3 separate regions of the Homo sapiens genome follow, and regions 1 and 3 are each linked to region 2. Evidence: fine-mapped QTL for protein levels in blood plasma. A gene starts in region 2. Each other region holds a variant in brackets. All regions are shown on one strand. Distances are between the middles of the regions. Region 1 overlaps CA6 (carbonic anhydrase 6). Region 2 holds the start of CA6 (carbonic anhydrase 6). Region 3 overlaps CA6 (carbonic anhydrase 6).

Region 1 (10,342 bases), 31 kb after region 2:
CCTGCATCTGCCTGGGGCGCAGGCCCCAGACCCCAGCGTGCTGGAAGCAGGTGCGGGCAGGCCAGCCTCCGCTGCATCCTCCAGTTCCTTGGATCAGGCTCCAACCGTGTCCTTGGCTCACCTCGTTTCTGTGTTGGCAAGAGTGTAAATATTTCACAGCCTCCTCATCTTTATTTTGTCTGCTTTCTGTAAAGTTGTGGTGAATCCATTGTCTTTACAGCCCATTCTGTTAACCATTCCTGATACCTTTATATTTTCCAATACAGTAGAATCAGTATCCTATCAATATTGTGTACTCAATATTATCCCACTTTTTTTTTCTTTTTTGAGACAAGGTCTCAGTCTGTTGCCCAGGCTGGAGCTCAGTGGCACAATCACGGCTCACTGCAGCCTCAAACATCCAGGCTCAAGTGATCCTCCCACCTCAGCCTCCCCAGTAGCGGAGACTGCAGGCACACACCACCACACCCAGCTAATTTTTTTTGTAGTTTTTGTAGAGATGGACTCTTACTATGTTGCTCAGACTGGTCTCAAACTCCTGGCCACAAGCAATCCTCCCCCCTCAGCCTCCCAAAGTGCTGGGATTATAAGCACGAGCCACCTCGTTCGGCCTTATCCCATCTTTATATGTACCTTTTAAAACTTAAATTTCCTCCGGGTGTGGCGGCTCACGCCTGTAATCCCAGCACTTTGGGAGGCTGAGGCGGGCAGATCACGATGTCAGGAGATCGAGACCATCTTGGCTAACATGGTGAAACCCCGCCTCTACTAAATATACAAAAAATTAGCCAGGCGAGGTGGCGGGCGCCTGTAGTCCCAGCTACTGGGGAGGCTGAGACTGGGGAGGCTGAGTAGCTGGGCATGAACCCGGGAGGCGGAGCTTGCAGTGAGCCGAGATTGCGCCACTGCACTCCAGCCTGGGCGACAGAGAGAGACTCTGTTTCAAAAAACCAAAACAAACAAACAAACAAAAAAATTAAATTTCCACCTCCCCAACCCGAATAAGGCCTATTTGTGATTTTCTCCCCACCTTTCCTTCCTGGTTCACTTACTGAATTAACAGAGGATATAGGTGTTTTCTATATTGTTTCCTGAAATACAATTCACTCCTCCAATACAATACTAACAGAAGAAAAAAACTGACATCAGTTACAGTAATCATTTCCCCATATTATACCATATACAACATTAACAGCAAGAATCCCTTTGTCCGAAAGTGATGTCGTCTTTAACAGGTCCAATTGCAAGCAGGCTGACCAAAGGGAGCTTAGACTCATGGGTCTGTCTCCTAATTCTTTTGGAGTCTCTCACTCTGTCGCCCAGGCTGGAGTGCAGTGGTGCAATCTCATGGGCTCACTGCAACCTCCGCCTCCCAGATTCAAGCAATTCTCCTGCCTCAGCCTCCCAAGTAGCTGGGATTACAGGCACGCGCCCCCACGCCAGGCTAATTTTTGTATTTTTAGTAGAGATGGGATTTCACCATGTTGGTTAGGCTGGTCTTGAACTCCTGACCTCAGGTGATCCGCCTGCCCGGCCTCCCAAATTGCTGGGATTACAGGTGTGAGTCACTGTGCCCGGCCTGTCTCCTAGGTCTAAATGTTGCCATATTTCCCCTGCTTTCCCTAAAACAATTTTACGCTATTCTTGCAATAGTCACTAACAGACTGCGTATCGTTCTATTTGCCACATCTGAAATGCTTTTTCCACTACAGCGTCACTCTAGCATCTCCTCACGAGGGGGTCAGATGTTCTAGGTACCGGCCCCAGACTGAGGTATTCCATGCTGTGATTTGTCTGTAGGTCCACTAAGAATCGCTGTTTAGGATCGATTACTTCAACTCCCAGTTCAGCATCAGAGGGCTTCCTTACCCCCAGGGAACCCGAATTGTGGCCTCCCTTTGCTGATTATAGAACAGACAACTGGGCATCATCTTGGCCCACCTTCCCTCAGGCCTGGATTTTTCTTTCTCTCTCTTTCTTTCTTTCTTTCTTTCTTTCTTTCTTTCTTTCTTTCTTTCTTTCTTTCTTTCTTTCTTTCTTTCTTTCTTTTCCCTCCCTCCCTCTCTCTCTCTCTCTCTCTCTTTCTTCCTCTCTTTCTTTCTTTTTTTGACAGAGTCTTGCTCTGTTGCCCAGACTGGAGTGCAATGGCGCAATCTTGGCTCACTGCAGCCATGACCTCCAGGGCTCAAGCAGTCCTCCTACCTCGACCTCCCAAGTAGCTGGGAGTAGCATGTACCACCACACCCAGCTAATTTTTGTATTTTTTTGTAGAGACGGGCTTTGGCCATGTGGCCCAGGCTGGTCTCGAACTCCTGAGCTCAAGCAATCCACCCACTTCAGCCTCCCAAAGTGCTGGGATTACAGGCATGAGCCATCGCGCCTGGCCAGGCCCAGATTTCTATGTAGCAGTGATTGGCTGTGGTCAACCCAGCTGCGTGACTCATGGTATTTCACTGTTCTGTAGAGAACTGTATCCCAGCGGGGTTGATATGATTAACCCACCTGCAAGGAGTGAATTGAGAAACCAAGGTCAGTTACAAAAACAAGACGATGGCCAAATACGGACCTCTTGCGATTTATTTACTAGAAAACGCCTATATCCCCTCAGGCAAGGGCCACGGGGGGCATCGTGGGAGAAGCCAAAATCCAAGAGTACAGCCCACCTCAACACGCCACCCCTTGGCTCTGGGCAGCTTAGAAGCCTGAGTTCAAACACAGTGAAGATGACTAAAGGCAATGCACCGGGCACGTGGAGAGCATTCTAAGGAATCAAAAGACTTCCCAAAAATACGATGCGGGT[A/G]TGGTGTCTGGCCGTCCCCCTTCTCTGTTTTTGTGAGGACTGTACAAGGTTTAACCATTTCCGACTAACTCTTCTTTTTACAGAATACACTCTAGGCTCTGAATTCCAGTTTTACCTACATAAGATTGAGGAAATTCTTGACTACTTAAGAAGAGCATTGAACTGAGGAAAGCTAAGAGGAAGATTCAATATTAACTAGCTTGAAGCCTGACCTAGCCAGAAGTGCCTGTCCGCTGCAGCCGCACCCTACCTTGTCTAAGAAACCATGTGTGTCTGGAACACGCTGCTCCCCCTGGGGCAGCTGTTGGGATTCTGATTAAAAGAGGGGAAACGATCATCCTGGACAGGAAGTGAGATGGCTTCAGTTCATGAGACGGGATCTGAGTTAGACATCACCAGTGGAAATTGATTGGAATAGAAACTTAAAGGAAATGGAACCCTAACTATTCTCCCATCAAATCATATATGTTGACCTGTCTGAATTATAAACCAGCCTGACCTTTCCTTTAGCATTAGATGTAATAAAATAACTTTGGAAATTTGTCATTTAAAAATTTCTTTCCTATTCCTTTGTATTACTTCAAATATCCCTTCTTTGTTCTGCCCGCCCCCGACTCCTCCCCCCACTCCTCCCCCTACTCCCCCACAACCGCACATAGGTGAAGGGATAGAGATCAAAGTGGGAGGGATTTCCAAGACTAAGATTAATAAAAAGGAAGGAGGTGTTTTTTGTTGTTGTTGCTTATTTTTTTGAGATGGAGTCTCACTCTGTTGCCAGGCTGGAGTGCAGTGGCACAATCTTGGCTCACTGCAACCTCCACCTCTTGGGTTCAAGCAATTCTCCTGCCTCAGCCTCCCTGAGTAGCTGGGACTACAGTTGCGCACCACCATGCCCAGCTAATTTTTTGTATTTTTAGTAGAGACGGGGTTTCACCATGTTGCTCAGGATGGTCTCGATCTCTTGACCTTATGATCCGCCCGCCTCGGCCTCCCAAAGTGCTGGGATTACAGGCGTGAGCCACCGCGCCTGGCCTTTTCTTTTCCTTTGAGACAGAGCCTCGCTTTGTTGCTCAGGCTGGAATCCAGTGGTATAATTTTACTGCAACCTCTGCCTTCTGGGTTCAAGCAATTATTCTGCCTCAGCCTCCCAAGTAGTTGGGATTACAGGTGTGCACCACCACGCCCAGCTAATTTTTGTATTTTTAGTAGAGATGGGGTTTTGCCATGTTGGCCAGGCTGGTCTCAAACTCCTGATCTCAGGTGATCCTCCTGCCTCGGCCTCCCAAAGTGTTGGGATTACGGGCGTGAGCCACCACCCCTGGCCTAGGAAGAGATTCTTACACTGAGAATTTGTCAGTGGGGAAGTTTGGAGCAGTGGCTGTGAGTCAAAGAAAAAACAGGAGACGAGAAAGAAGAAGGGCTCCCAGGACAGAAGGAAAGAAGAGAGGGGACCTCACTGCAAACCCCCTTGTTGGTCAAATGGTGCCTGGTCCTTGTTACCAGACCCAGATTCAGGCATCCCATTAGTTATGTGGGATGATAACATGACCTCACAGGGCTCATAGGGCTGTGGCTTCATTAAATAACACTGAGAAGTACCCAGAAGAGTGACCCATATTTTTTTTATCATTAAATAACACTGAGAAGTACCCAGAAGAGTGACCCATATTTTTTATTTTTATTTTTATGTTTTTTGAGACAGGATCTTGCTCTGTGGCCTAGGCTGGAGTGCAGTGGTGATCCTAGCTTCATGGCAGCCTCAACCTCCTGGGCTCAAGTGATCTTCCTACCTTTGGTCTCCCAAGGTGCTGGAATTATAGGCATGAGCCACCACACCTGGCTGCTACCAATTTTCTTGGTCACTTATGCATTCCCTTCATCGATGCCCCTTCCTTCCCATGCCTTAGCTTCCTCCTCACTTCTGATTGAGCTCACCCTGGCTCTTCTGAATTCCTTCTGCTCTTGTTACCTCTGTTGTTTTTCCATGTCATTATTTGTCATATCCTAAGCACTTCCACCACACGTGACTGCCCTCAGCCCCGAAGGCCACCTTCAGTGAACTTGCATTATCCCCAGTTTACAGAAAGCAAACCAAGACGTCGACTTGCCCAAGATCTCCTAGGTGGCAGATGAAAAGCCAGGATTTGAACCCAAGTCTTTTGTATCCACATTCTTTTAACCATAGGAAGCCTCCCTTTCATTTTCTCAACAAGCTTTCTTATGCACTTGCTCTGAGCCTGACATAACACTAGGTGCTGGGGGTTCAGGGATGGGTGAGAACAGCTCCCACACTCCTACAGCTCGGGTCTGGTGAGCAGAGTGGACACTAAAATAAGTAATCGCCATATCGCCCCATGGTGGAGGGAGCGCCTGTGTTTAAAATCCAAGTGCTTGGCCTGGGTTTTGAAGGCTGAGAAAGAGTTCACCTGGGAAACCAAGTCAGAGAGGGGCGGGGGTATTGTAACCCGAGAGTGTGGCATGTGCTGATGGGAAGACACCTGGGGAAGTGGAAGCAATTTGGCGTGGTCAGAGGACCAAGTTCAAGGATGCTGGCACGGAAAGCGGGGGTGTGGCCAGGGCAGGTCAGGCCGTCACTGGTATCTTCTGTGCCACTAAAGGGTTTCGGATTTTACCCTGTAGGTGACGGCAGCGACTGCAGGGTTTCCACAGGGGAACGACACGGTGCGATTCATTCTTTCCACCAGATATGTGTGTCTATAATGAATGAGAGACGCAACAGTGGGCGGTACGGCCAAAGAGCTTACTTACATTCCTGTGGGAAGGCAGACAAGGAAATGAAGATGGAGATGGGATTACACTTGCCTGTCCTCAGGGATCCAGCCCTCCCACCCCTGAAAGTCTATCCTTAAGAGAGGCTTGTGGCCGGGCGCGGTGGCTCACGCCTGTAATCCCAGCACTTTGGGAGGCCGAGGTGGGTGGATCATCAGGTCAGAAGATCGAGGCCATCCTGGCCAACATGGTGAAACCCCATCTCTACTAAAAATACAAAAAAATTAGCTGGGTGTGGCGTGCATCTGTAATCCCAGCTACTCGGGAGACTGAGGCAGGAGAATCGCTTGAACCCAGGAGGCGGAGGTTGCAGTGAGCTGAGATCGTGCCACTGCACTCCAGCCTGGCGACAGAGCAAGACTCCATCTCAAAAAAGAAAGAAAGAAAGAAAGAAAGAAAGAAAGAAAGAAAGAAAGAAAGAAAGAAAGAAAGAAAGAAAGAAACTTGCAAAAAAGCCATTCATGCTGACCTTTTTAACAGCAAAATACAGGAAAAAACACAAACGTCCATCAGTTGGGGATTGGTTGACTAAACCAGGGCTATTCACACAACAGAGAACTGCATAGGGAATAATCTCTAGGCTACATTTGTTTCTTTTTTTTGAGATGGAGTCTCTGTCACCCAGGCTGGAGTGCAGTGGTACGATCTCAGCTCACTGCAACCTCTGCCTCCCAGGCTCGAGTGATTCTTCTGTCTCAGCCTCCTGAGTAGCTGGGATTACAGGTGCATGCCACTAACGCCCTGGCTAATTTTTGTAATTTTAGTAGAGATGGGTTTTGCCATGTCGGCCAGGCTGATCTCGAACTCCTGACCTCAGATCATCTGCCCGCTTTGGCCTCCCAAAGTGCTGGGATTACAGGCATGAGCCACTGCGCTTGGCCTGTAGGCTATGTTTTTAAGCCTGAAAAAAGCAATTTTACAGATGGCACAAGAAGAATTAGAAATATGAATATAGTTAAGTATTTGTTTATGTTTTGAAGCACAAACAGGGAAAAAGAAACCAAAAATAAATTAAAATGGTTTCCTAGGCTAGGCGCGGTGGCTCACGCCTGTAATCCCAGCACTTTGGGAGGCCGAGGGGGGCGGATCACGAGGTCAGGAGATCAAGACCATCCTGGCTAACACAGTGAAACCCCGTCTCTACTAAAAATACAAAAAATTAGGCGGGCGTAGTGGCGGGCATCTGTAGTCCCAGCTACTAGGGAGGCTGAGGCAGGAGAATGGCATGAACCCGGGAGGCGGAGCTTGCAGTGAGCCGAGATCGCGCCACTGCACTCCAGCCTGGGCGAAAGAGCAAGTCTCTGTCTCAAAAAAAAAAAAAAAAAAAAAAAAAAAAAAAAAAAAAACAACAACAACAAAAAAAGGTTTCCTAAAAAGAGAAGGCAGGGGAAGGGTGCTGAGGGTGGCGTGGGAAGGTGGAGTTTTCTGGATGTGCCCTGTTTGGTAGTTTTGACTTTGGAACATCAGGCTTTATGTAATTGCAAAGTAAAATTAAGTAAGTAAGGAAAAAAGCATTCCTGAAACATAAAACGCGAGTTACGTTTCAACATAAAAATATAGCAGAACAATTGAACAATTATACATAGGGCCGGTGGCATGAACACTGAAGGATTTTTTCATGTTATTTTAGACACGGTATTTTTCATCTACATACCTGCTGCAGTATATCCTAAGGACAAGAAGAAGTACCAAGGAATCTTAAACAGTACTTAGGAATCCTCTTAAAAATTATATTGGTATTGTTATTTTGAAATTGTGTGTGTGTGCAATTACTATCCTCTACTACTATATGTGCACAAATAATTATGTTAATGTCCTCACTAACAAGATTTTCAGCATAAAAAACAGAGATCCAAATTGAAAAATTAGGCTGGGCTTCATGGCTGACACCTTTAATCACAGCACTTTGGGAGGCTGAGGTGGGAGGATCACTGGAGCCCAGGAGTTCAAGACCAGCCTAGGTAACACCGCAAGACCTCATCTCTACAAAAAATAAAATTTAGCCAGGCATGGTGGTCCATGCCTGTGGTCCCAGCTACTCAGGAGGCTGAGGTGGGAGGATTGCTTGAGCCAGGGAGGTGAAGGCTGCCGTGAGCCGTGGTTGTATCACTGCACTCTAGCCTGGGTGACAAAGCAAGACCCTGTCTCAAAAAAAAAAAAAAAAATTAACAAAGCTAGATAAAAACTCTGTAATCATAAATTTAGAAATATCAATATAAATTTATAAATTCTTTTTTTTTTTTTTTTAGGGACAGGATCTTGTTATGTTGCCCAGGCTGGAGTGCAGTGGCTATTCACAGGCATGATCCCATTACCGATCAGCACAGGAGTTTTGACCTGATCCATTTCTGACCTGGGCTGATTCACCCCTCCTTAGGCAACCTGGTTGTCCCCTGCTCCAGGGAGGTCACCATACTGATGTCAGACTTAGTGTGGACACCTGATTGGCACAGTGCACTGCAGCCCAGAACTCCTAGGCTTAAGCTATCCTCCTGCCTCAGCCTTCCAGCTACCTGGGACTACAGGCACGCACCACTGCACTTGGCAATAAATTCTTTTTCTCTTTCTAAAAACATGTATTTCCTAGGTCTGTTCACTGAAACGTCTTACCAACAAAAACAACCTACAAGCAATTAACACCTTATAACCAGATAATGGCTCCCCTTTTTTTTTTTTGAGATGGACTTTTGCTCTGTTGCCCAGGCTGGAGTGCAGTGGCACGATCTCAGCTCACTGCAATCTCCACCTCTTGGGTTCAAGTGATTTCTCCTGCCTCACCCTTCCAAGTAGCTGGGGTCACAGGCGCGCGCCACCACACCCGGCTAATTTTTGTATTTTTAGTATAGACGGGGTTTCACCATGTTGGTAAGGCTGGTCTTGAACTCCTGACCTCAAATCATCCACCTGCCTCGGCCTCCCAAAGTGCTGGGATTGCAGGCGTAAGCCACTGTGCCCGGCCCAGATAGTGGCTTCTAAATATCATTTTTCACTATGAGGAATCAGGGAACCTTGGAGAAATGACTGATTCCAGATGCGGAACAAGAATATAGAAGATGGGCTGGGCACAGTGGCTCACTCCTGTAATCCCAGCACTTTGGGAGGCAGGGTTGGGAGGATCATTTAAGGCCAGGAGTTTGAGATCAGCCTGTGCAACAGAGCAAGACTCCTGTCTATTAAAAAAAAAAAAAGAATATTTAAGAAGAACCTGGGATATCTTTTTAGGCCAGAAAACAAGAAATTTAACTAAGTACTGGATTTATGTCAAAAAGACACTGGGGCCATCTTGAAGGGGCTCCTGGGTCAACTTAAGCATTCAAAAGAACAATATCATAAAAAGAATCATAACTGCAATGGATTGAAAATTGAAACACTGAATATATAGAAATATATGAGTTCATTATGGTCCTAAAAATAAGTGAAAGAAAACGCACTGGTCTTCTTTGGAGGTTGCTAGGGAAACCATTTATTTTTCTGTAAATTGGCAAATAGAAAGAAAGGGTCAAATATATGTCCCGCCTTCCCTGTGCACACTGCAGCTGAGAGATCCTATGGTTGGTTGCATCAGTTTCCTGAGGCTGCTGTAATAAATAACCACAAACGACATGGTTTAAAATATCAGAAATTTATTTTCTCACAGTTCTGGACACCAGAAATTTGAGATCAGGGTGTTGGCAGGACCAAGCTGCCCTCAAAGATGCTGGGGGGCTTCTTCCTTGCCTCTTCCAGCTTCCAGCGGTCACGGGCATTCCTTGGCTTGTGGCTGCATCACTCCGTCTCTGCTTCCATCCTCACATGGTCTTCCCTTTTTCTCTGTGTCTTTGTCCGTCTGCTTTTCTCTTATAAGGTCATTTGTCATTGGACTTAAGGTCCATTTGAATAATCCAGAACTTCATCTCAAAATTCTTTACTTGATTATATCTGCAAAGATCCTTTTCTTTTCTTTCTTTTTTCCTTCCTTCCTTCCTCCTTTGCCCTTCCCTTTCTGTCCCTCCCTCCCTTCTTTCTTCCTTTCCTTTCCTCTCCTTTCCCTTTCTTTCTCCTTCTTTCTTCCTTCTCTTCCCTTCCCTTCCCTTCCCTTTCCCCTTCCCCTTCCCCTTCTCCTTCCTTCCTTCCTTCCCTCCCTCCTTCCTCCTGCTTTCTCAGTTCGTTTTCTTTCTTTCAAGATGGGGTCTCCCTCTGTTGCCCAGGCTGGAGTACAGTGACACAAGCGTAGCTCACTGCATCCTCAACCTCTCAACCTCCCAGGCTCAAGTGATCCTCCCGAATCAGCCTCCCAAATGGCTGGGACTACAGGCACGCTCAACCACACCCAGCTAATTAAAACAATTTTTTTTATAGTGACAGAGTTTCACCTTATTGCCCAGGCTGGTCTGGAACTCCTGAGCTCAAGCAATTTGCCCTCCTTGGCCTCCCAAGAGCTGGGAGTACAGGCATGAGCCACCCCCCCCAGCCCCCTTTTTCCAAATAAGGTCACATTCACAGGTTCTGGGGGGACATTCTTTTGGGGTGGCCACTGTTCTACCCTATAGAGTTGGTGAGAATGAGTTCTTCTTGGAGGAATTACAGTTAGTATATTCAGAAGGAGTCATTTTGCAGCCTCAATGAAATGATGGACCCCGGTAATGATCATGATTGGTTTCCAACACCATTAGATGGGAGATTGATGGGATCTTTACACTATATTGCATTCTATTCTATTCTATCCTATCCTATTCTGTGGATCAGGCCGACAACCTTTGGAAACACTGAGCA
Region 2 (10,626 bases):
TGGGGAAGAGGATAGAGACACAGGAGGAGATGCCTGTTGGGAGACAACCCTACCCAACAGGTGCTGAATTCCAGGAGGATGTGTGAGGCTGGAGATACTCTCTAAGACTGGGGAACTCATCACCAGGAGGCTAGTGAGAGAAAGCAAGGGCCCCCCCGTGGAGTTGGACCTGACTGTAGCTGGATATTTTGCGAGTGGGTTAGTTTACACAATGACTTGTCAATGCTCCATTTATATGGATATAGCTGAAAGTCAGAAAGGAAATAGAAATCTGTGAGTTTAGCATCAAAATGCCGAAGGCATTTCAGAGTGTGTGTATTTTAGGTAGAGGACAGTCTCTGGGCTGTTGGCTTAGCTCTATCCATTCTTCTTGGACATGTAATTTTAAGAAGTGTGGTCATCTGGTTTCTGCCAAACAGATGAGGAAGCCAGGAGATGAGAACAGACAGACAACCCTAAGAGGCAAGAGCTGGAAGCCCATGTTAGAAATGCTAATAGTGGGCCAGGCGCGGTGGCTCACACCTGTAATCTCAGCACTTTGGGAGGCCAAGGCAGGCGGATCACCTCAGGTCAGGAATTCAAGACCAGCCTGACCAACATGGTGAAACCCCGTCTCTACTAAAAATACAAAAATTAGCCAGGCATGGTGGTGGGCGCCTGTAATCCCAGCTACTTGGGAGGCTGAGGCCGGAGAGTCACTTGAACCCGGGTGGTGGAGGTTGCAGTGAGCCGAGATCACGCCATTGCACTCCAGCCTGGGCAACAAGAGTGAAGCTTCATCTCAAAAAAAAAAAAAAAAAAAAGAAAAGAAAAAAAGAAAGAAATGCTAACAATGAAAAAACAATGAAAAACAAAATCAATACACACACAATGGTACCTCCAGCTGCTCCTGCCGCTCAGCCCTTCCCAAGAACTTCCCAATCTCCCTACAATCCACCAATCCAGGGTTAACTCCTGGCAGAGCAGGGAGCTTTCAGACTTTCCTCCACACCAAGTCTGGCTTCTGTCCTGATTGGTTATGTCCCAGCCTTATGGATACCCCTGAGCATAAACGTGCATTGCTTTAGTAATCAATTAAGCTAGCTAACTTTCCTCTCTCAGTATCTGGTAAAAGAAATCCAAAAACTACAGTTAGGGGTCATTTCTTTCCTTTCTTTCTTTTTTTTTTTGAGACGATGGAGTCTCCCTCTTGAGCCTCCCGAGTAGCTGGGATCACAGGCACATGCCACCATGCCTGGCTACTTTTGTATTTTCAGAAGAGACGGGGTTTCACCATGTTGGCCAAGCTGGGCTCGAACTCCTGACCTCAGGTGATCCATCCCCCTTGGCCTCCCAAAGTGCTGGGATTATAGGTGTGAGCCACTGTGCCTGGCCAGGGGTCGTTTCTTGCAGGGAGAATTATATATATATGTTATATGTTATAGGCCCAGCAGACATCAATATATTACAATGCAGGAGAATAATTGATGTTCATATTAGTGGGACTCAGTCATTAAGAAAAGTTTAATAAAATTCAGCTTTATCTTTTTAAAACTGTACCGTACATTTTAGAGGTTTTAAACATCTTGGTGCTTACATAGGATTGAGCCTGTAACCATCTAGAACTTACTTGTTCAGAGTGACTCATTCTTCAGGATGAGCTCACACTCCTGCATGAAACAGAACAATAGCCTTTCTGTGTTACTTACACCCAAATAAGCATATTCTTGTGTAGGCAGACTCTTTCTTTTTTGTTTGTTTTTTGTTTGTTTTTGTTGTTGTTTTTGAGACAGAGTCTCGTTCTGTTGCCCAGGCTGGAGTGCAGTGGCGTGATCTCAGTTCGCTGCAACCTCTGCCTCCTGGGTTCAAGTGATTCTCATGGCTCGGCCTCCCAAGTAGCTGGAATTACAGGCACGCACCACTATGCCTGGCTAATTTTTGTATTTTTAGTAGAGACGGGGTTTCACCATGTTGCCCAGGCTGGTCTTGAACTCCTGACATCAGGTGATCCACCCACCTCGGCCTCCCCAAGTGCTGGGATTACAGGTGTGAGCCACCGTGCCTGGCCTGCCAGACTCATTCTTTTATGCTGGTCCTGTGCAGCCTGGGCTAACGGTGCCTCCCTAGTCATTTGGTTCATGATCTGTCCCTGCTCACCTGGGCTGATGGTGCCTTCTTGCCCACCTGGGCTGGCCATGCCTCCCTGCCTCCTTCTTTTTCCTTGCCTCAGTGGGCCTTGTCGGGGGGGCAGTGGTAGAAGCAAGGAAGAACAAAGGCTCCTTTCTCCCTTTGACCTGATGTTGTAATAATGATAAACTTGTCAACTCATCTCCGACAGCCAATCCAACCATAGACCCTAGAAAAATAGGAGTTTAGAATTAAAAAAACAACCTTGATCAGCCAAGGATATGGTTGGATGAAGGCAGAAGGAAGCTCATAGCATAGAGAGACACACTAAAAATAAAAGCAACAAAAACAGAGCACACATAGGGCACGCACCTGTTGTCCCAGCTACTTGGAGGGGATGAGGCGGAAGGGGGTGCTGAGGCGGGAGGATCACCTGAGCACTGGGAGGCTGCAGTGAGCCATGATTGCACCACTGCACTCCAGCCTGGGCAACAGAGTGAGACCCTGTCTCAAAAAAGAAACCAAAAACCAAAAACAACAACAACAAAAACCCACTGCCACCACCACCAACAAAAGCAAACCCAAACAAACAATGTGCCTCCCAAATCCAAGAAGAAGACTCATGTTCAAAGGTGACGGAAAATTTCAGGTTTGAAGTAGACAAGGAGTCAGAAAATAGGCAACACTACTGACCACACCTGATTCTGGGTCCAGTATGTCCTTGGCAGTGTGCTGTACAGCGGAGGGAGGGGACCCTCTCTCTAGAAATATGCCCTCGTTGGCAGATGGCCTTGCTTCTCCAAGAGGCCATCATCTGATCTGACCCCCGTATTGCCTTAATTACTCACTTTCACACCAATTCTCAACACCAGCCAGGTCAACAGGTTGCTGGCCAGTCCAGGCTCTTGCCTGAGCGAAAGGCAAAACCAGGGCAAAGCTTCAGATGTGATGGGTGGATACGCTGCACAGCAGTTCTGCAGAGGGGCTGCTGGCATCACAGCTTCACAGACGCAGTATGTGCACTGTATTTTAAGGAGCTGTGTGAGGCAAGGAACGCCCCAGAGCTCTCCTGGGAAGCCCCAAATGCTCACCGCAGGGCAGTGAGACCCGTGGGGCTGGGAGCTGCCAGGAGTGGTGGGCCCTCTGCATTTCACTGTGCTCTCCCGCAAGCACTCCTCTCTCTGACTCTCCAGGGCCCCTCTTTGGGCAGTCTTCCCCTCCCCCTTGGCCCAGGCTTTCTCTGAGCTCCTTCCTGCTCCAGTTCCCCTCGCCTGGGCTCATCCAGTCCTCCCAGGCTTCCGTGACAGCCTGACATTTTAGTCTCTGCCTGCCTGCAGCTCCCTGATTCTTTCTGGGTCTCCCAATTCAGATTCCCAAGAAAAAATTCAGATGACTGAGTTTGTGTTTTCCTGCCAGTTTGATGTCAGGGGTCCTGCCTGGGCTTGTAAAGGGTCTTGGTCTCCTCAGCAGAGGTGGGGCCTTGTGATTTACAAGGTGGCCCTTTCCGCAGGGCTGGGAGTCAGCAGGTGGGCGTCACTGGTTTAGCAAGGACAGAAGAGTAGGTTTCTCATTTTTGCAAAGAAATGGTCCATAAGCTGGAGATTGAAGCATTTTTCCTCCAGTTCCCTCACTAACCAGCTGGGTGGCAATGATAAATCACTTCCTTTTCCTATAAAATGAGGGGTCTGAATAGATGCTAATGCCATTTGCTACACACCAGGCACTGCTCCAACTACTGCAGGCACATTTATTGCCGAATCCCCACAAAGGAGGTGCTATCACTAACTCCTTTTAAAGAAAGGAGGCGGCCAGGTGCGGCGGCTCACGCCTGTAATCCCAGCACTTTGGGAGCACGAGGCGGGAGAATCGCTTGAGTCCAGGAGTTTGAGGCCAGCCTAAGCAACATGGTGAAAACCTGTATCTACAAAAAGTACAAAAATTAGCAGGGCGTAGTGGCATGCGACTGTGGTCCCAGCTACTTGGGAAGCTGAGGCAGGAGGATTGCTTGAGTCCAAGAGAAGTGAGCTGAAATCGTATCATTGCACTCCAGCCTGGTGACAGAGAGAGACCCTGTCTCAAAAAAGAAAGAAAGAGAGAAAGAGAGAAAGAAAAGAAAGAGAGAAAGGAAGAAAGAAAGAGAAAAAAGAAAAGGAAGGAAAGCTGAGGCACAGAGCGCTGAGTTGCCCATGGTCACACAGTTAGCAGGTGGCACAGATCCTGTCTAGTTTCAGAATCCTTGTCCTTGAACATGCTTTGCTCTCTCTCTGAGATTCTTTCAGCTCTTGAGCTTTAGAAATGGAAGTTTCCAGCAAGTTCTTTGCAGCAGCTGATGTTCCCTATTAAATGACAGTGGGGAGTCTTAGAAGTATTCGGGAGGCCTACGTTCACCGCTAACATCCTTGTTGTGAAGGCCTGCTGACGTTTGCCATTCCAGGACCAAGTGGACAATGAGTTAAGCTAGGCCAGGAGGGGGTTCAGCTCCCCATAACAAGGCAGGGGTGGCCCTTTGTGTCCGGCAGCATGGTAGCCCCCCCGCAGGAGCTCCGGCTACCCTTTGTGTTTGACCTTGTGGAAGGGCATGGGAAATGCTGGCCTGTCAGCAGGCATAAACTCAAAAGTTTCTCCTTCAGCTAATTTCAGGGACTGTCTAGCCAAGTGAATACACAGGATTAGGTAATCCATGGATCCTGCGAGGGCAATTGGCTGATTGGCTTAGGTGTGCCCAAGAGCCCTGCAGGTGTCAGAACAAATCCATGTAGAAATGCAGACGCCCACACCAGCTTGAATGGCATAAAGGCACACATTGGAATGTGGCTCATGAGCTGGGACCCAGGATCAACCACTGGTTTAAGGAGAGGACCGTGAAATGTCCAAACATGGAGGCCAGGCCACCTCCCTGGATGCCTGGCTGAGGGCAGCCACATGTCTGCAGCGGTGGCTTGTGTCCATGACTGAGATGGGCAGGGTTTGCAGGCAGTGGTGATCCCATCAGCAGTCCCCAGATCTCTAATGTCAGGAGAAAGAGCATGGGAAGTCCGACGTCCAGGAAAGTCTTTCATCCTGCTTCTCCCTGCCTTGGGCCTTTTCCCATTTCCGCGGTCACCTGTCCACAATGGCTGCACTGTGTGGCTCTTCAGGTGTTCCTAAGACACTGAACAACCAAACCCATGGACTGACCGGATATGAAATTGACGTGGGAGGAGATCAGGCAGGTGCTGGGGCTGCCTGGCGCAATGCACGGAGCCAGAAGTGCTGTTATGGGGAGGGTGTTATTGTTTTAGTGGGTGCAGCAAAGGGTGGTTTAGCCAGCTGGGCAGATCAATTGTAAATTGTTATTTACAGTTTCTGAGCCTTTAAAAGAAGAGCTTCGCCGGAATCAGTCTTCATTACAGATGTGCAGCACCATGAGGGCCCTGGTGCTTCTGCTGTCCCTGTTCCTGCTGGGTGGCCAGGCCCAGCATGTGTCTGACTGGACCTACTCAGGTGAGCCCCTAGCTTCTGCATGCTCCCCCAGTTACCCTCACACCCTTACAACAGGACAAGTGCCCTTCTTCTTCTTCTTTTTTTTTTTTTTAGACAAAGTCTTGCTCTGTTGCCCAGGCTTGAGTACAGTAGTGTGATGTTGGCTCACTGCAACCTCCGCCTCCCGGGTTCAAGTGATTCTGCTGCCTTAGCCTCCCGAGTACCTGGGATTACAGGTGCCTGCCACCATGCCTGGCTAATTTTTGTATTTTTAGTAGAGACAGGGTTTCACCATGTTGTCCAGGCTGGTCTCGAACTCCTGACCTTAGGTGATCTGCCCATCTCCCAAAGTGCTGGGATTACAGGCATGAGCCATTGCGCCCGGCCAAGAGTCCTCCTTTAGGGCATTTCACAGGATGGCCAGGCAGCCCACTTGCCATATGTTGGGGGTCTGCTCATTGTGGCTTCAGATGTTACCTTTTCAGTGTCTCAGAAGGTATGGAGAATAAGCTGAACTTAAACTTCAAATAAGGAAAAGAAGGAAATAGCTTTCCCCTTCACAAACTCCTGATTTACTTACAGGCTTTTTGCTTTAAATTTTTTTCCATCCACAGTGTTGGCTGGTTCAAAAGCACACTCACTGCTTCTATTTGTAAAACCATTTGCTTTGTTGGTCCGTGTAAGTGGAAAACAAAGTTCTTAGAAAAGACTCTCGGTAACCTCACGGAAGGTGCTGTGGGGTTTGCGAGACCTTCTTTCTTGGAAATTTCATGGTAGGCAGTTTACCCAGAACATCTTGACATAAGGACCCAGTTCCCTTTGATCTGTGGGCTGCCAAAATGAGAGGTGTTTTTTTTTTTGTTTTTTTTTTTTTTTTGAGACAGAGTCTTGCTCTGTTGCCCAGGCTGGAGTTCAGTGGTGCCATCTCGGCTTACTGCAACCTCTGCCTCCTGGTTTCAAGCGATTCTCATGTCTTAGCCTCCCAAGTAGCTGGGATTACAGGCACTCATCACCATGCCTGGCTAACTTTTGTATTTTTAGTGGAGATGGGGTTTTACCACGTTGGCCAGGCTGTTCTCAAACTTCTGACCTCAAGTGATCCGCCCACCTTAGCCTCCCAAAGTGCTGGGATTACAGGCGTGAGCCACCGCGCCAGGCCCCAAACCAGACTTTTAAAATGTGAAATGTAAAATCCTGGCATTCAACATGGGTTCTGGTCCACATGTGAGCCAAAGCTAGAAGGCCGTGTCTGTGGACTTTGTGGACACTAAACAGCCCTTTCCAGGGGCAGTGAGGAGAGCTTCTTCCCGCATCCCCCTTCTTTCCATACGGGACCATGGATTGGGGCCCATGAGGAGGCTGGTGGCCGCTGGCTGATGCAGGAAGTGAGACAAACATCTGCTTCCTGCAGAGTCTGCCCCAGTTCAGCTGCTCCGGAAGCATTCCTTCAGGGTGAACGGGATGATCTGTTAAGTCAAGGGCAACGGAATTAGGGACATCCTGGGAGGTTCAGAAAGTCCAGCCAGCTCTGAACAACCGCTCTGTTCCTGAGGACAGTGATCTTACACATGGCAGTGCCTCGGAAGCCTGGGGCATTCTGCTTCACTTGGCCAAGCAGTGCAGGCAGGTGGTTCAGAGGTGAAGGAAGAGAGAATTCAGACAATGAAGTCCTTGTCCTTCCCAGGCTCTGCCCAGCCTCTGAGACAGTGGGCTTCCTGGGAAACTACTAGGGGCTCCAGGAGAACTTGAGAGTAGCTTTTGTAAATGCCTTCCAGGGAAACCTGAGAGATGTTCCAGTATTGACAGTGCCCTGGGCCAAAGCATCTTGCTCTGAGAAGGCGTTGTGCTCCAGGCCAATTGCCTTGATTACAAACCAAAAAGCGGTGAGGGCCCTAGTACAGACACCTTTTTTTTTTTTTTTGAGAGTTTCACTCTCGTTGCCCAGGCTGGAGTGCAGTGGCGCGATCTCGGCTCACCGCAACCTCTGCCTCCTGGGTTCAAGTGATTCTCCTGCCTTAGCCTCTCAAGTAGCTGGGATTAACGGCATGTGCCACCATGCCCGGCTGATTGTTTTTTATTTTTAGTAGAGATGGAGTTTCTCCAGGTTTGTCAGGGTGGGTCTCGAGCTCCCAACCTTAGGTGATCCACCCGCCTCGGCCTCCCAAAGTGTTGGGATTACAGGCATGAGCCACCGTGCCCAGCCACAAACACCTGTCTTAAAACAAGCTGTGTACTCACCACACAGCTACCCCCGAACAGGGAACAGAGGTGGGATTCTCCATGTCACATGGCTGACTCCAAGCTCCACAGCTGTATGGGAGCCAAGTCACCATGATAATCACTCACCTATGTTACTCTGTCCCCTACGATTATCAACCCTCTCTGAAAAGATAAACTTTCTCCTTATGAATTTTAAAAAAGTACTCATTCTAGGTTGTCCTGGAACCTGATGCTTCCTTAGTTTCCCTGAATCCATAAGTGTAGACACCTAGATGGTCTTTACCATACGGGAATCCATAAAAGGGGCTGGAGCAAGAAAATAGTGGTGGGGGGTTCCTGCAGCATGGGGAGGTGGGGGCTGTGTTCCTGTTGGGGGCATGGAAGGACAACTGGGCCCTTGGGAGGAAATGAGGAAGAGGCCCCAGGAGCAGCACAGGAAGAGCAAAGCCAAGGATCCCTCCATGCATTCACCAGCTGGAAATAAGTCAAACGAGAGCAAAAATTTACGTATAAAACACTCTCAGGCCGGGCACGGTGGCTCACGCCTGTAATCCCAGCACTTTGGGAGGCCAAGGTGGGTGGATCACCTGAGGTCAGGAGTTAGAGATCAGCCTGGCCAACATGGTGAAACCCCGTCTCTACTAAAAATACAAAAATTAGCCAGGCGTGGTGGTGCATGCCTGTAATCCCAGCTACTCCGGAGGCTGATGCCGGATAATCTCTTGAATCTGGGAGGCAGAGGTTGCAGTGAGCCAAGATTGCACCACTGCACTCCAACCTGGGTGACACAGCGAGACCCTGTCTCAAAAAAAAAAAAAAAAGACTTCCATTGATTTCAAAACACTGTCTTGCTCCCAGGGCCAGCAGTTGCCACAGGAAAGTTAGAGGTTAGCACCAAAGCCCCCCAAACACCAGAGTCCTTGGAGTTGACCTCGTTGTCTTTTTGGCCTCCTTCTGGGGGACCTGCTTCTGCTTTCTGGAAGGTGCCTCCGTGGGTCCCCGCCCAGCAGGCCCTGGCCTCTGGCCTCTGGCCTGGTGAGGTTCCTCCAGAGTGGGCGCAGCCAGGCAGCCCCTTGAACTGTGTCTTTCCTGTCTTAGAAGGGGCACTGGACGAAGCGCACTGGCCACAGCACTACCCCGCCTGTGGGGGCCAGAGACAGTCGCCTATCAACCTACAGAGGACGAAGGTGCGGTACAACCCCTCCTTGAAGGGGCTCAATATGACAGGCTATGAGACCCAGGCAGGGGAGTTCCCCATGGTCAACAATGGCCACACAGGTAAGAGGAAGGGGTGGTGAGGGGCTCCAGTCCATGGGCAGCCTGCAGGGGAAGGCAGGTTACACGTGTCCCTGCCAGGAATGGCTTGCACAGAGACACAGAGCACGGCCTCAGAGCTGGAGGCCTCGAACATGAGGGTCGAACATGAGGGCTGACTGGCCCCGAAACCTAGTGGCTCTTCCAGAGAGGGCAGCATCCATCTTTCGACTCAACTCCCTGCTGGTCCCTTCCTGCAGCGTTATCCTCTTACCCGAGCTCACCCAACCCACCCAGCAGGTGACAGGCAGGACAGGCCGTGCTGCTGAAGCCACCCTTCCCACGGGGGCTTTCTGTCCATCACCTTGGGTCAGCTTTTCCACATTTCCTATATTGAGTCTATTCAGCTCAAAGCACCTGACAGGTAGGACCAGGGTTTCTCAGAGTTTTAAGAAGAAAGCTCTGGCTTTCTGATCCCTACAAGAAAGAAGGTGAAGGTCAGACAGAAAAAGCAGGGCCGTGGGGATGCCCCACTTCAGGAATCCGATATGAGAAACTGTAAATTTTGTTTATTTTTTTGAGACAGAGTCTCACTCTGTTGCCCAGGCTGGAGTGCAGTGGCAGGATCTCAGCTCACTGCAACCTCCACCTCCTGGGTTCAAGCGATTCTCCTGCCTCAGCCTCCTGAGTAGCTGGGATTACAGGCATGCACCACCATGCCCAGCTAATTTTTTTTGTATTTTTAGTAGAGACGAGGTTTCACCATGTTGGCCAGGCTGGTCTGGAACTCCTGACCTCAAGTTATCTGCCCACCTTAGCCTCCCCAAAGTGCTGGGATTACAGGCACGAGCCACCATGCCCGGCCTGGAAACTGTGAAATCTGTGCTTTACTTGTGCAGAATATCCTCCTGATTTTCCAAGTTGGCTCGACTCCTCTGAGCCTCATGACCACCCCAGGAGGGGGCATTTTTTAGGCAGGAAGTCTGAGGCCTCAGGAGGTCGAGGGACTCACCCAAGGCCACACACTGTCTAATGGCCAAGATGGGCTCACACCCCCAGTTGTCAGGTTTCTTGGCCACATCCTCCTTAGGTTCTGCACTCTCTCACTCCTGCTTGGGTTGAGATACATCCCTGCCTGCCACACAGCGATAGGACAGTCACTGGACTTGGCCAGGCATGGTGGCTCATGCCTGTAAACCCAGTACTTTAGGAGGCTGAGGTGGGAGGATCACTTGATGCCAGAGTTTGAGACCAACCTGGGCAACTTGGTGAGACTTCATCTCTACAAAAAATCAAAACATTAGCCAGGAGTGGTGGTGAGTGCCTGTAGTCCCAGCTACTCGGGAGGCTGAGGTGGGAGGATCACTTGAGCCTGGGAGGTCAAGGTTGTGGTGAGCCGAGATTACCACTGTACTCCACCCTGGGCAACAGAGCGAGACCGTTTCTTTAAAATAAAAAAATAAAAGGGTCACAGGACTTAGTGTTCTTATCTTGCACAATCAAGAAAATAAAACCAGCCTGGTGAGGTGGTTCATGCCTGTAATCCCAGCACTTTGGGAGCCCGAGGCAGGCAGATCACCTGAG
Region 3 (10,626 bases), 12 kb after region 2:
TTTTGATGAACACTAAGCTTAACAGTAAAGTTGACATGACGTATTAAAGATTTGTTAATTTTTGGTTTTGCAAGGTTCTTTTATTTGAGACGAAGTCGTGCCCTGTAGCCCAGGCTGGAGTGCGGTGGCGCGATCTCGGCTCACTGCAACCTCCGCCTCCCGGGTTCAATCAATTCTCCTGCCTCAGCCTCCTCAGTAGCTGGGATTACAGGCATGTGCCACCACGCCTGGCTAATTTTTGTATTTCTAGTACAGACAGGGTGTCACCATGTTGGCCAGGCTGGTCTCAAACTCCTGACCTCAAGTCATCCGCCCACTTCGGCCTCCCAAAGTGCTGGGATTACAGGCATGAGCCACCATGCCCAGTCAGGTTTTGAAAGGTTTCTAATCACATGTATCGAGCAATCATTTCAGTGTCATGAAAATCCTGTGTTCCACCTGTTCATCTTTCCCTTCCTTCCTAAACCCTGGCAATCACTGATCTTTTTATTTGACCTATAGTTTTTCCTCTTCCAAAATGTCATATGGTTGGAATCACACAGCATGTAGCCTTTTCACATTGGCTTCTTTCACTTAGCAATATGCATTTAAGTTTCCTCCATGTCTTTTCATGGCTTGATAGCTCATTTCTTTTCAGTGCTGAATATTCTATTGCCTGGATGAACCAGTTTATCCATTCACCTATCCAAAGACATCCGGGCTGCTTCTCAGTTTTGGCAGTTATGAATAAAGCTGTTATAAAACCCATATGCAGGCCAGGCATGGTGGCTCATGCCTGTAACCCCAGCACTTTGGGAGGCCAAGGTGGGAGGATCACTTGAACCCAGGAATTTGAGACCAGCCTGGGCAATGTAGTGAGACCTACGAAAGTAATAAAAAAATTAGCCTGGCATGGTGGCTCAAACATACAGTCCTGGCTACATAGGAGGTTGAGGTGCGAGGCTCACTTGAGCAGCTTGGGAGGTCAAGGCTGCAGTGAGCTATGATTGCACCACTGCACTCCAGCCTGGGTGACAGAGCAAGACCTTCTCTCAATCAATCAATCAATCAGTCAATCAATCAATCAATCAATTCCATGTGTAGGTTTGTGTGTTTTCAGTCCATGTGGGTAATTACCAAGAGCTTGCTTGATCGTATAGTAATGTCAGAGGCGTTTGAACCAGAGTGACCCCATCTTGAATAGGGGGTGGGTAAGATAAGGTTGAGACCTACTGGACTGCACTCCCAGGAGGTTAAGGCATTCTCAGTCACAGGATGAGATAGGAGGTTGGCACAAGATACAGGTCATAAAGCTTGCTGATAAAACAGGTTGCAGTAAAGAAGCCTGACAAATCCTACCAAAATCAAGATGGCCACGAGAGTGACCTCCAGTTGTCCTCACTGCTACAGTCCCACTAGTGCTATGACAGTTTACATATGACATGGCAACGTCAGGAAGTTACCCTATGTGGTCTAAAAAGGGGAGGCATGAATAATACACCCCTTGTTTAGCATATAATTAAGACATAACCATAAAAACGGGCAACCAGCTGCCCTTGGGGCTGCTCTGCCTGTGGAGCAGCCATTCTTTATTCCACTACTTCCGTTTTTTTTTTTTTTTGGAGACAGAATCTTGCTCTGAGGCTGGAGTGCAGTGGTGCTACCTTGGCTCCCTGCAACCTCTGCCTCCTGGTTCAAGTGATTCTCGTGCCTCAGCCTCCCAAGTAGCTGGGTTTACAGGCATGCACCACCATGCTCCATTAAGTTTTATAATTTTAGTAAAGACGGGGTTTCGCCATGTCGGCCAGGCTGGTCTTGAACTCCTGACCTCAAGTGATCTGCCTGCTTCGGCCTCCCAAAGTGCTGGGATTACAGGTGTGAGGCACTGCGCCTGGCCTATTCCTTTATTTTCTTAATAAACTTGCTTTCACTTTATTCTGTGGACTCACCCCAAATTCTTTCTTGTGTGAGATCCAAGAACCCTCTCTTGGGGTCTGGATTGGGACCGGTTTTTGGTAACATATAGACCAAGTTGGAAATAATTGACATTGAGATAGTATTAAGTCTTCCTATCTGTGAACATGGAATATTTCTCCACTTATTTAGTTCTTCCTGATTTATTTCATTAGTTTTGTGATTTTCCTTATATAGATTTTGTCCATATTTTTGGGTTATTTTTGTATTTTTAGTAGAGACGAGGTTTCGCCATGTTGGCTAGGTTGGTCTTGAACCCCTGACCTCAGGTGATCTGCCTGCCTTGGCCTCCTAAATTGCTAGGATTACAGGTGTGAGCTGCCGGGCCTGGCCTCCTCATTTTAAAATTAAATTTAAATTAGATTCAACATTTCAATAAAGAGAAATTCAAATTGAAACACAGGCTGTTGAAACAAAGACAAGTTGCTACAAAATTTCTAAAATGAACTCCCAATTTCTCTGTTTTGGTGCAGACTAGTAACAGTTGGTGGGCCGGCACTGATCCATTAATATATATTGCCCAGGTGCCGGCACTGATCCATTAATATATATTGCCCAGGTGCCGTGGCTCACCTATAATCCCAGCACTTTGAGAGGCCAAGGCAGGTGGATTGCTTGAGCCCAGGAGTTTCAGACCAGCCTGGGCAACATGGTGAAATTCTGTCTCTACAAATAAACTTAAAAATTAGCTGGACATGGTGGTGTGTGCCTGTAGTCCCTGCTACTTGAGGGGCTGAGGCAGGAGGATTGTTTGAGCCTGGGAGGTCGAGGCTGCAGTGAGCTGAGGTCATGCCACTGCACTCCAGGCTGGGTGACAGAGTAAGACCCTGCCTCAATTAAAATCTTTTTTAAAAAGCACAGTAACAGGCTCAGGGTTGTGGCTCTTTTCCAATTGGGCCTGTGTGGGCCTGTCAGTGTAACCAGAAGTAACACATTCCGTCTCCCGGGAGCTGTGTTTTGGGGAAATTGTGAGGACCTCTCTCATTTCTCCTGTGGTGCTTACTGTCCATTTAGGGAGCTCTGCTCGGGTCCTCAGCTCCTCGGCTCCCGTCTGCTTTCAGCATCACTGACCTTGCACGCCTCCTTTTAAGGCCCTTCCACGCCTCCTTTTAAGGCCCTTCCGTCCTTTTCTTGCAAGCATTGATTTTTGAGGCCAGCTACATCTCAAGCTCTAAATACAGAGCATTTGTTCTGCCAAACAGCCGGTGAAAACCTTTCAGGCCGGATTACTGCATTATAGCACATTACGTTATGAATTTAATCATAGCTCCCCGCTCCTTTAGACAATTTGGAAAGAAAGAGGGGGCACGTGACAGGTTTTAAATACCTCATATTTGCTATCTTTTAAGAAAATGTTCTTGTTTACAGCCACCATTGATGACTTTAAATAGGAAGATCTTGCCAGGCGCAGTGGCTCGCGCCTATAATCCCAGCACTCTGGGAGGCTGAGGAGGTTGGATCACTTGAGGTCAGGAGTTCGAGACCAGCCTGGCCAATATGGTGAAACCCTGTCTCTACTAAAAATACAAAAATTAGCCGGGCATGGTGGCATATGCCTGTAATCCCAGCTACTGGGGAGGCTGAGGCAGGAGAATTGCTTGAACCCAGGAGGCGGAGGTTGCAGTGAGCCTAGATCATGCCACTGCACTCCAGCCTGGGTGACAGAGTAAGACTCTGTCTCAAAATAAATAAATAGGAAGATCTTGCTCATGAGACACATGCTGCCTTTCCAACGCCGAAATTATATCCTCATAGATATTTTTCTTAGTCACTTTTCTTAGTAACTGAGCCCGTTTTTTTCTTTTTGTGTAGTTCATTCCAAAAGGCAGAGATTTCAGCTGGGCGTGGTGGCTCATGCCTGTAATCCCAACACTTTGGGAGGCTGAGGCAGGTGGATCACTTGAGGTCAGGAGTTCGAGACCAGCGTAACCAATATGGTGAAACACTGTCTCTACTAAAAACACAAAAATTAGCCAGGCATGGTGGCGGGCACCTGTAGTTCCAGCTACTCGGGAGGCTGAGGTGATAGGATCCCTTGAAGCCAGGAGTTGGAGGCTGCAGTGAGTTGCTGCAGCAAGTCATCGTGGTGCCACTGCACTCCAGCCTGAGCAACAGAGTGAGCATGAAAAAAAACAAAGAAAAGAAAACAGTTCTAAGAGGCCCCACTTCCTATTCTTATACCTTCGGCAAATTCCAAACTTGGCCAGAGATAGAGAGTAGAATTCTAGTTTCCAAGCCCATTGGCCATAATTTTTCAGGACCTTCCCTTTCCCTGGGGCCAGCAAGCTGGACCTGCCACTGTGTGGTCCTGCCTCTGGCCTGTTGGTTCTGGGCGGGAAGGAGCGTGCTGGGGAGAGGCACTTGCCCAGCCTGGTTTACTTAGTGCCTGGCCTCCATCCTGACCTCACCCTGTGCCCTGTGCGCAAACGCCTCTTCTCCTTTGGTGACCCTGCCCATGGCATTCTAAGCCAGTCTATGGTATTGGCTTGCCCTGGGCTCAGACAGGTGGGAGGTGAGCAGAGAAGCTACCCAGCCTGTAGGCCTGACCCCTCTGTGTTCACCTACTCTGCTCTCAGCCCCACCTTGTCTCTCCAGTGCAGATC[A/G]GCCTGCCCTCCACCATGCGCATGACAGTGGCTGACGGCACTGTATACATAGCCCAGCAGATGCACTTTCACTGGGGAGGTGCGTCCTCGGAGATCAGCGGCTCTGAGCACACCGTGGACGGGATCAGACATGTGATCGAGGTACCTGAGGACCCCCACTGTGTCCTCTTTCCTTTGAACCCCATAGTCACTTTTCTTTTTATTTATTTATTTTGAGACAGAGTCTCGCTCTGTTGCCCCGGCTGGAGTGCAGTGGCACAATCTCAGCTCACTGCAACCTCCGCCTTCTGGGTTCAAGCAATTCTCCTGCCTTAGTCTCCCGAGTAAATGGGATTACAGGCACCCGCCACCATGCCCTACTAAGTTTTGTATTTTTAGTAGAGACGGGATTTCACCATTTTGGCCAGGCTGGTCTCGAACTCTTGACTTCAGGTGATCCACCCGCCTTGGCCTCCCAAAGTGCTGGGATTATAGGCGTGAGCCACAGTGCCCAGCCGTCACTTTTCTTATTAAAATAGCCAAGGCCAGGTGCACTGGCTCACGCCTGTAATTCCATCACTTTGGGAGGCCAAGGCAGGGGAATTGCTTGAGCCCAGGAGTTGTAGATCAGCCTGGGCAATGTAGCGAGATCTTGTGTCTACAAAAAAAAAAAAAAAAAAAAAAATTAGCCAGGAGTGGTGGTACACGCCTATAGTTCCAGCTTCTGAGGAGGCTGAGGTGGGAGGATCGCTTGAGGCCAGCAGGCTGAGGCTGCAGTAAGTCCTGATCATGCCGCTGCACTCCAGTCTGAGCAACAAAACAAACAAACAAAAACAGCCAAAAGACTGTGCGATGGTAGCAGTTAAGTCATGCTGAAGTTGAGTTTATTTTTTATTCACTCAGCAACTATTGACAGATCACCACTTTGTGACAGGGGTTCAGGCAAGGTCCTGCCCTCACAGGACTCAGGTTGGCAGGACTTCACAGCCCACAGGGTGTGGCAAGCCCTCCTTTGTTTCAGCTGGATTTCTATGTGTTAGATTTTCTTTTTTTTTGTTTCTTGAGACAGAGTTTTGCTCTTTTGCCCAGGCTGGAGTGAAGTGGCATGATCTTGGCTCACTGCAACCTCCGTTCCCTGGGTTCAAATGATTCTCCTGCCTCACCCACCCGAGAAGCTGGGATTACAGGCACCTGCCACCATGGCCGGCTAATTTTTGTACTTTTAGTAGAGACGGGGTTTCGCCATGTTGGTCAGGCTGGTCTCAAACTCCTGACCTCAAGTGATCCACCCGCCTCGGCCTCCCAAAGTGCTGGGATTACAGGCATGAGCCACTGTGCCTGGACTGTGTTAGATTTTCTGAGTTACCTCTTTTGCCAGAATCCATCCATAGGATGACTACATGTTAACAATGGTTGCCTGGGACAAGGGGCGCAAGCTCACTCTCCCTGCAAAGCCCCCAGACACTCCAGGAGAACCCACTGTCCTCATGTGATCCCTTCAGACTCTGCCAGCTTGTCTGCCTGGAGGGAGGTGTGGTCGGGAAATGGCCTCGAACTGCCATCTTCCAGAATCCCACTCTTGCTCTTTCCATTCTTGGGGAAGTTTCTGCTCTTGATAGATAGGAATTGCAGCCCAGATGGAGAGAGATGGAGGTCCAAGTTGCTTGTGTGGAACAGTCTGAGGCCTCAGACGGAGCACCTTTCTTTCTCTTCCTCCTTCCCTGGAAATCTTAAGCATTTGAATTTCTATGAACTGCCCTTGACCCACTCTACCTTGCTCTTACAGATTCACATTGTTCACTACAATTCTAAATACAAGAGCTATGATATAGCCCAAGATGCGCCGGATGGTTTGGCTGTACTGGCAGCCTTCGTTGAGGTAAGCAGAAACTACCCATGTGTGTCTGTATTTGAAGTTATAGGTTGATGTCCAAACAAGGTGTGAAGTCTAGTTGAACAGTCTTCTTTATTATCACTCTTCATCTTTTCCTGAGCTCACAGTTCTTGGAAACATTGACTCGATGGAAGATCACTGTGCTCCTTCCGTGCTGTCAATCTCCGGACCTTGGTTAACGTGGACAAGCTGACTTAAAAGAGCTGGAATCCCAGAGGGGTTGCGTAGACACAAATTGTTCGAAGGGCAAGGGGAAACCTGCAACTCAGTCAGACAAAGGCAACACCTCTGCATTTCCTTTTTTTTTTTTTTTTGAGACGAAGTTTCACTCTTGTCACCCAGGTTGGAGTGCAGTGGCACAATCTCGGCTCACTGCAATCTCCACCTCCCAGGTTCAAATGATTCTCCTGCCTCAGCCTCCCAAGTAGCTGGGATTACAGGCACCTGCCACCACGTCTGGCTAATTTTTGTATTTTTAGTAGAGACGGGTTTCACTATGTTGACCAGGCTGGTTGTGAACTCCTGACCTCAGGTGATCCCCCTACCTCAGCCTCCCAAAGTGCTGGGATTACAGGCATGAGCCACCAGGCCCAGTCAACACCTCTGCATTTCTAAGAAAGTCTAGATGGTGGGGCCGGGCGTGGTGGCTCACATCTGTAATCCTAGCACTTTGGGAGGCCAAGGTGGATGGATCACTTGGGGTCAGGAGTTCAAGACCAGGCTGACCAACATGGCAAGACCCCATCTCTACTACAAATACAAAAATTAGCTGGGCATGGTGGCAGGCGCCTGTAATTCCAGCTACTTGGGAGGCTGAGGCAGGAGAATCACTTGAACCCGGGAGGTGGAGGTTGCAGTGAGCCGAGATCGTGCTACTGCACTCCAGCGTGGGCAATAAAGCTAGATTCTATCTCAAAAAAAAAAAAAAAAAAAGCTGGGCGCGATGGCTCATGCCTGTAATCCCAGCACTTTGGGAGGCTGAGGCAGATGGATCACCTGAGGTCAGGAATTCAAGACCAGCCTGACCAACATGGGGAAACCCCATCTCTACTAAAAATACAAAAGTAGCCAGGCGTGGTGACGCACGCCTGTAATCCCAGCTACTTAGGAGGCTGAGGCAGGAGAACTACTCGAACCCAAGAGGCAGAGGCTGCAGTGAGCCAAGATAATGCCACTACACTCCAGCCTGGATGACAGAGCGAGACTCCGTCTCAAAAAAAAAAAAAAAGTCGGGCATGCAAAGAAATAGGAAAATGTAATCCATATTTAGGAGGAAAAAATAACTCAAAACAATCTATAGAAACTGACCTGAGTGGACCCAGAGTGATTAAGCAGACAGGACTTTAAAACAACTATCAATGCTGTGGCTGGGAGAAAAATTAAAAAAAAAAAACAACTATCATAAATGTTTGAAGAATGAAAGGAAACTATGTTCAAAGAATTGAAGGAAAATATGATGACAATGACTCAAAAAAGGAATCTCAATGGAGAAATAGAAACTTTAAAGATGCACCAAATGGAAAGTCTAGAGTTGAAAAGTACAATAAACAAAATGGAAAAAGAATCACTAGATGGGCCCAAAGCAGATCTGAGGCAGCAGAAGAAAAAAAGAATCAGTGCATTTGAAGATAGAGCAATGAAATTATCCAATCTGAAAAACAGAGAAAAAAGACAGAAGAAAAATGAACAGCCTTGCAGACTCATGGGGACAAAATCAAGTATAGCAACACACACACACACACACACACACACACACACACACACACACACACATATATATAATGGGAGTCCCAGAAGGAAAGGAGAGAGAGAAAGTGGAAGAAAAACATGAAACAAAACAAAACAATGGCCCAAAAGCCTCAAATCTGAGGAAAAACATAAATTTATCAATCCAAGAAACTAAAAATACCCCAAGTCTGATAAATAAACCCCAAGTCTAGATACATCAAAAATCAAACTGTTGAAAGCAGCAAGAGAAAAGGGATTTATTATATGTAGGGGAATGACAGTACAATTAATGGCTGACTTTTCAAGTCATCAGAACACAGTGGAATGACTGTCAATCAAGAATTCTATATCCAATAAACCACCCTTCAAAAATGAAGGTGAAACAACACATTCCCAGATATACGAAAACCAGTATAATTGCTAGCCGGTCTATCTTACAAGTCATATATAAGGATGCTTTTCTGGCTGAAAGAAAATAATACCAGACGGTTAACTCCGATCCACAGAAAGAAGTGAAGAGTACTGGAAATGGAGAATAGAAAAGACTACATACATATATTTTTTGTGTTTTCTTCTTTTAATTTCTTTTTAAAAACCATCAAGATTATTTAAAGCAATGACTATACCACTGACTTATAATATATGTAGATATAATGCATATGACAAAAATAGAAGGATGAGGATGAAATAGAGCTCTTTTGAAGCAAAGTTGCTATATTTTACTGAAATTAAGTTAATATTAACCTGACATAGATTGTGATTGAGTTGTATATGGTAATCATTTGAGCAACCACTAAGAAAATAACTAAAAATGATTAAATGGTAAATGAGAAGTATTTGCTTAACACAAAAGAAGGCAGTAAAGGTGGACCAATGCAACAAAAAAGGCACGAGACATCTAGAAAACAAATAGCAAATGCAGTCATAAAGCCAAGAAAGCCAAATTTATGCACAGTGAAAGAGATCAACACCACTTGACTGAAAAGAGCCATTGAAAATAGACCTTTTTCACCCAAAGCAACTTTTCTGACTGTTAAAGTCAATACTCATTCAGAAAGAGTGACCTGGTGTTGGGGGAATTGTAGTCGTTCTGCCTTGGACATCTGGCTCTCTGTCGGAAGTCCTGAGGATGAAGAAGGGAACTTGTGAGATCAAGCCCTCCTCATCACAAAGAATCTGACTGTGGCTGACACTGCCCAAAACAAGTGCACAGACCAGGTGCGGTGGCTCACGCCTGTAATCCCAGCACTTTGGGAGGCCGAGGTGGGCCGATCACCTGAGGTCAGGAGTTGGAGACCCACCTGGCCAACATGGTGAAACCCCATCTCTACTAAAAATACAAAAAAATTAGCCAGGTGTGGTGGTGGGCACCTGTAATCCCAGCTACTCGGGAGGCTGAGGCAGGAGAATTGCTTGAACCCTGGAGGCAGAGGTTGCAGTGAGCCGAGATTATGCCACTGCACTCCAGCCTGGGGAAGAGAGCAAGACTCTTAAAAAAAAAAAAAAACTCACAAACAAACAAACAAAAACAAGCGCACAGGGGACTTTTTTAGAGTAAGAGTTGGCCATTTCTGAGGGCATCACCAATGACTGACAAGCTTCTTTCCCTGGAAGCTGCCAAAATACTTCAGATAATGCCTTTCTGGAAGGACTCATGAACCTGCGTGGTTGGTAGCAAAGAACAGCCAGACTGTCTCTGCCAAAACACAAGACGGCACAGGCTGCCTCTCCTTACTCTCTAGGCTCGGCCCAATCCGCTAGAAAGCTGAGTGGCTGGATTAGTAGCGATGGTGCTGGGGCCTCTTCTTCACTTACGCTCAGTGCTCTGTGTTTCTCTGCAGGTGAAGAATTACCCTGAAAACACTTATTACAGCAACTTCATTTCTCATCTGGCCAACATCAAGTACCCAGGTAAGGGAAGCCAACTGTGGCTGCAGGAGGGAAGGGGAATGAGTGTGAGTGTGAGTGTGAGGTGGGCCCAGGGGGCAGGGGATTGATGCTGGTGGGGAGGGTGGCCCGTGGGCCCTGCCAAGGGAGTCCATCCCTCCCTGTGCCAGGTTACTTGTTCCAGTGATTTCTGCTGTTGGCTTAGGCAGCAAACCTCTCTGAGAAGCCTGTGCATAAATTCGATGTGTCATTTCCCATGATTGGAACTTCTGACTGGAGTTGCACTAAGTAGGCATATCCTTGCTTCGATGACTGTCACCTCAGCTGGCAGTGACAGTCCTGGCAGCTAGAGAGATGTCCACCTGGCTCCAAGCTGAGATGAATGTCAAGAGGGAAGCCCTCGTCATACCACTTGGACATCCAGACACTCGGGGTGTTCTTCCGTCCCCTCTCCTCCAGAGGGCGGCGTTCTTGTAAGAGCCATTTCCCACCCAGGGTCAACCCTTGACTTTTGAGCTATAACCACAATAGCTCTGCATCCTCGACTTCACACGTCCCATTCCGGCCACACCTCCCAGCCTC

The links. PIP is the posterior inclusion probability: the model's chance that the variant is causal. Sun 2018 read protein levels with aptamers (SomaScan).
Region 1: its variant is fine-mapped to the plasma level of the CA6 protein (Sun 2018, PIP 0.95).
Region 3: its variant is fine-mapped to the plasma level of the CA6 protein (Sun 2018, PIP 0.95). The variant lies in the coding sequence of CA6. If it changes the protein, the assay may bind it differently, which can mimic a change of level.

Annotation. Positions count from the first base shown.
Region 1 is chr1:8,971,739-8,982,080 of GRCh38, forward strand. It overlaps CA6 (carbonic anhydrase 6), which reads left to right. Exons shown (of 8, transcript NM_001215.4): 8 at 2,884-3,354. The coding sequence ends at 2,966. It also overlaps the pseudogene RN7SL451P. Among named protein-coding and RNA genes, the nearest start is that of CA6, 31 kb to the left of the region's middle. The variant A/G (reference allele first, on the strand shown) is at 2,801.
Region 2 is chr1:8,940,377-8,951,002 of GRCh38, forward strand. CA6 (carbonic anhydrase 6) reads left to right here and starts at 5,492. Exons shown (of 8, transcript NM_001215.4): 1 at 5,492-5,589; 2 at 8,887-9,066. The coding sequence starts at 5,511.
Region 3 is chr1:8,952,589-8,963,214 of GRCh38, forward strand. CA6 (carbonic anhydrase 6) reads left to right here. Exons shown (of 8, transcript NM_001215.4): 3 at 4,549-4,697; 4 at 6,322-6,414; 5 at 9,999-10,068. Among named protein-coding and RNA genes, the nearest start is that of CA6, 12 kb to the left of the region's middle. RefSeq lists an enhancer at 10,402-10,626. The variant A/G (reference allele first, on the strand shown) is at 4,557.